Linked DNA regions of Homo sapiens: region 1 is linked to region 2. Evidence: fine-mapped expression QTL. Tissue or cell type: whole blood. Region 2 holds a variant in brackets; the other region holds the start of a gene. All regions are shown on one strand. Distances are from middle to middle.

Region 1 (2,681 bases), 380 kb after region 2:
TAGCTGGGACTACAGGCGCCCGCCACCTCGCCCGGCTAATTTTTTATATTTTTGGTAGAGACGGGGTTTCACCATGTTGGTCAGGCTGGTCTTGAACTCCTGACCTCGTGATCCGCCCACCTCAGCCTCCCAGAGTGCTGGGATTACAGGTGTGAGCCACCGCGCCCGGCTTTTTGCCTTTCCGTTTCAATGGCTCATCTGGTCAGTCCTCTACCACTCTAAAAAGATTTAACTATTGGCGGAGAGCAGGAGCTCACGCCTGTAATCCCAGCACTTTTGGAGGCCAAGGCAGAAGGATCCGTTGAGCCCAGGAATTCGGGACCAGCCTGGGCAACAAAGCAAGAACCCCAACATAAAAAAAAAAATCTGTATTTAAAAGCCAAACACAAATAACAAACAAAAAACACCAGCCTGGGCAACATAGTGAAACCTCATATCTACTAAAAACACAAATTAGCCGGGCGTGGTGGTGCGCCCTGTAGTCCCAGCTACTCGGGAGGCTGAGGCAGGAGGATCACTTGAGCCCGGGAAGTCGAGGCTGCAGTGAGCTGTGATCGCGCCACTGCACGCCGGCCCGGGTGACAGGAGTGAGACCCTGACTCAAAAATAAATACATATATAAATAAAAATTAACTATTGTCTCTGGCCCCAGACCATAGGTGTCCCTGCAGCAGGGGCCGACTGGCGTGCTCTCCACTCGGGCCCCTCTAGGAGGTGCTAAGTAAATATTTGAACGAAGACCTCTGAGTCCCTGTCTGGCTGCGACTATGTCCTCTCAGGCCTTCCCACGTGGCAGCTGCAGGCTCCTTTCCTGCTGGCTCAGTCTGAGCCCGGCAGGGTGATCCCTTCCTCATCCACTCCGTCTCTCCGTTTCCCTTTCTTCACGGTGCTTGACACTATCTAATATTATTTGGTTGTTTGAATGTGCGCGTCCAGCTCCCAGGACGCTCCCTGCACACAGTGAATGAATAAATGAATGAAATAAAGCGCCCAGCTCGTAGTAAGGGCCAATGAATGTCTATTAGTAGTGGAACCTCGGATTGGGTGGCTCCAGCCCTGCCTCCCTTCCCTCAGGAGGCGCCGAGGTCCCAGAGCAGCCCGCGCGACCCTGCCCCTGACCTTTCTCCCTGGGTCAGTTAAACCAGCCTTCTTTCCCGCCTGCCGGGTTCATTTGAAAACCGAAAACCCCGCCATTGCCGGCGGTCCACCGGTTGCCACACTCTGACCAATCAGGAGCGACGCGTTTCACGCCGAGCCCGAAGTTTCCCCGGCGACGCGCAGCCACTGGTTATGCAGGCCCTGTGGGCGGAACGCCGTAAGGTCGCGCGCCGGGCAACGCGGTGCCGCTACACAGTAGCGAGTTTGTAAGAAAACAAATCAGTTGCGTTCGGGGCGTGGCCGGGAGCACGTTGGCTCCGCCCCCTGGCGGCTGCCTCAGCGGCGGCGGCGGCGCAGGCTCAGAGCAGACCCCGCCCGGCGAGGAGGAGGGAGGGTGAGTTAGGGGGAGACCCGGCCCCCAAGGGGCGGGCGCCGGGCAGGGCCCCGCGGGCGGCCGAGGGTTGGGCCCGGCTCCCAGCCCCTCGCCGTCCTCCGGCTGACAGGGGGAGGAGCCCGCCGGGAGGGCCGGGGTCTCGGGCTGGGGAGCCGGGACGGGAGAGCAGCGCAGCCGGGTGCACCGCGGCCGCGCCCCGGGAGGGCTGTTCGGGCCAGCGCCCGCCGGCTGCTCCGCGCTGACAGCGCCGGGCTGGGGCGGGGCGGGGGGCTTTGCAGGCCGCCAGTGTCGACATGCTGCTGGAGGAGGTTCGCGCCGGCGACCGGCTGAGTGGGGCGGCGGCCCGGGGCGACGTGCAGGAGGTGCGCCGCCTTCTGCACCGGGAGCTGGTGCATCCCGACGCCCTCAACCGCTTCGGCAAGACGGCGCTGCAGGTGAGGCCGGGCCGGTCCAGGTTGGGGCGGGGCGGCTAAGCGGGATGAGGATCGAGACCCCAGAGCTCCTCTCTGGTCTCCTGGCCCTGGTGGTGACCCACTGGGAACCGGTCCTTCTTCTCTAGGCTTTCATTGTTCCCCCACAGTCCCCCTTCGAAGGTGGGTGGTGGGTGAGGCTAGGTTGTGGGGGGAGGGGAGAGCTTTTTAGCATCTTCTCTGGGAGGATTCCTGGTTCTCTGAGTGCCGGGGATTCACTTTCCCTGGGGAGGTTCTTATTCCGTGGGTGCGGGTTCAGCTCCTTTGGATGCCGTTTCCATGGGGACGGCTCACGTTTCTTGGGGCTTCTATGGGGAGATCCGATCTCTGGAAGGAGAGGTCCTGTCTCTAGGGGTTCCTCATTTTGTAGGGGGCTCTCTGAGACAAATCTGGTTACTTGGGGGTGGGGTCTTCATTCCTAAAGGTTATGCGGATCCTTGATATAGTATGGGGGCCCCAATGGAGGAACAATGTCAGATTGCAAGACATCCCTATATTCCCTGGGAGACATTTTACAGGGAAGTCTCGTTTCTCTTTTATTATTACTTTTGGAATCCCGCTTCTTGAAAGGAGCTCTCAGGTACTCTGAGGTGACATCACCATTATGTAGGAGGAGGCTATTTCCTGGAGAAGGGGTTCGCTTTCCTTTGACATCTTTTTTCCCTTATGAGGACTATCAATTCTTTGGGGGTAGTTCTCCATCTCTGGGGGCCCATTTC
Region 2 (2,681 bases):
CGCCACTGCACTCCAGCCTGGGCGACAGAGCGAGACTGTCTCAAACAAAAAAAAAGAAAGCATTTTTAAATAAGAAATATTTTCTTAACATCGCTTATCATTAGGGAAATGCAAATCAAGACCACAATGAGATACCACTTCACACCCAAACAAAACACAACAGAAAATAACAAGTATGGGTGAAGACATAGAGAACTCGGAGTGCTGTGCAGCATGATTGGTAAGAATGTAAAATGGTGCAACCTTTGTGGAAAGCAGCAGGGCGCAAATTGAAAAAGACAGAGGCAAATGGCCATTAGCTGATAGCAAACATCTGCATTAAAGGAGCTTTTTTTTTTTCTTTTTTGGAAGGTCTCCAAAAATGAAAAAAAAAGCTCACCACAGCCTCAACTTCTTGGGCTCAAATGGTTCTCCCGCCTCAGCCTCCTGAATAGCTGGGACCACAGGCATGCGCCACCACACCTAGCTAATTAAAAAAAATTTTTTTTGGTCTGGCACAGTGGCTTATGCCCATAATCCCAGCACTTTGGGAGGACAAGGCAGGCGGATCACCTGAGGTCAGGAGTTCGAGACCAGCCTGGTCTACATGGTGAAACCCCGTCTGTCTAAAAATACAAAAATTAGCCAGGTGTGGTGGTGTGTGCCTGTAATCCCAGCTATTCAGGAGGCTGAGGCAGGAGAATTGCTTGAACCCAGGAGGTGGAGGTTGCAGTGAGCTGATACCATGCCATTGCACTCCAGCCTGGGTGACAGAATGAGACTCTGTCTCAAAACGAAACAAAACAAAACAAACAAAACACTAGCCGGCCATGTTGGCACACGTCTGTAATCCCAGCTACTTTGGAGACTGAGACACAAGAATCGCTTGAATCCAGGGGGCAGAGGTTGCAGTGAGCTGAGATCACGCCACTGCTCTCCAGCCTGGGCGACAGAATGAGACTGTGTCTCAAAAAAAAGCAAAAAAAAAAAAAAAACCCAAAACACTAGCCAGGTATGGTGGCACACATCTGTAATCCCAGCTACTTGCGAGGCTGAGGCACAAGAATCGCTTGAATCCAGGAGGCAGAGGTTACAGTGAGCTGAGATCGCACCACTGCACTCCAGCATGGGCGACAGAGTGAGACCCCATTTCAAAAAAAAAAATATTTTTTTTTGTTTAGAGATA[G/A]GATCTCGCTCTCTGGCCCAGGAAGGTGTCAAAATCCTGGCCTCAAGTGGTCCTCTTGCCTTGGCCTCTGAAAGTGCTGGGATTACAGGCATGAGCCACAGCACCCAGCCTTGTTTTGTTTTACTAGCTATTCTCATGGGTGTGACATGTTATCTCTCCCTCTTTTTTTTTTCGAGATGGGGCCTCGCTCTGTCACCCAGGCTGGAGTGCAAGGGCGCGATCTCAGCTCACTGCAACCTCCACCTCCCAGGTTCAAGTGATTCTCCTGCCTCAGCCTCCCGAGTAGCTGGGACTACAGGCACGTGCCACCACGCCCAGCTAATTTTTTGTATTTTTAGTAGAGACAGGGTTTCACCGTGTTAGCCAGGATGGTCTTGATCTCCAGACCTCGTGATCCACCTGCCTCGGCCTCCCAAAGTGCTGGGATTACAGGCATGAACCACCACACCCAGCCTCTCCCTCTTTTTTTTTATTTTTATTTTTTTTTTGAGACAGAGTCTCACTGTTCAACTAGGCTGGAGTGCAGTGAGATGATCATGGCTCACTATGGAGTCAACCTGCGGGGCTCAGGTGATCCTCCACCTCAGCCTCCCAAGTAGCTGGGACTACAGGAGCACACTACCTCACTCAGGTAATTTTTTTTTTTTTAGAGGGAGTCTTGGTCTGTCACCCAGGCTGGAGTGCAGTGGCGCGATCTCAGTTCACGGCAACCTCTGCCTCCCAGGTTCAAGCGATTCTCCTGCCTCAGCCTCCGGAGTAACTGGGATTACAGACACCCACCACCATGCCTAACTTTTTGTATCTTTAGTAGAGATGGGGTTTCACCATGTTGGCCAGGCTGGTCTCGAACGCCTGACCTCATGATCTGCCCACCTCGGCCTCCCAAAGTGCTGGGATTACAGGTGCGAGCCACTGTGCCCTGGCTATATTTTATTTTAGTATTTATTTATTTATTTGTTTATTTATTTATTTATTTATTGAGAGGGAGTCTTGCTCTGTTGCCCAGGCTGGAGTTCAGTGGCATGATCTCAGCTCATTGCAACCTCTGCCTCCCAGGTTCAAGTGATTCTCTCACCTCAGCCTCCCCAGTATCTGGGACTACAGGCACATGCCAGCACATCTGGCTAATTTTTGTATTTTTAGTAGAGACAGGGTTTTTACTAAATTTTTCATATTTTTAGTAGAGATGGGGTCTCCCTATGTTGCCCAGGTCAGTCTCAAACTCATAGCTCAAGGGATCCATCCACATTAGCCTCCCAAAGTGCTGGGATTACAGGCATGAGGCACTGTGCCCCACCGTGACAGTTTACTTCATTGTGGTCATCCTCTTGATATTTTGAAAGCATTCAAACTCTACAGTGGCTTTTATATAATTAAACAACAATTTTAAAGAGATGGAGGTGTCACTATGTTGACCAGGCTGGTCTTAAACTCCTGGTCTCAAACTCCTCGTCTCAAGCAATCCTCCCATCTCAGCCTCCCAATGTGCTGGGATTACAGTGTGAGCCACCACGTC

What was found. PIP is the estimated chance that this variant, and not a neighbour inherited with it, causes the effect.
Region 1: it holds the start of CDKN2D, and the variant in region 2 is fine-mapped to the expression of CDKN2D in whole blood (INTERVAL, PIP above 0.99).

The regions. Positions count from the first base shown.
Region 1 is chr19:10,567,758-10,570,438 of GRCh38, reverse strand. CDKN2D (cyclin dependent kinase inhibitor 2D) reads left to right here and starts at 1,460. Exons shown (of 2, transcript NM_001800.4): 1 at 1,460-1,926. The coding sequence starts at 1,786. RefSeq lists a silencer at 1,194-1,843 and an enhancer at 2,124-2,293.
Region 2 is chr19:10,943,084-10,945,764 of GRCh38, reverse strand. No RefSeq gene overlaps it. Among named protein-coding and RNA genes, the nearest start is that of TIMM29, 16 kb to the right of the region's middle. The variant G/A (reference allele first, on the strand shown) is at 1,166.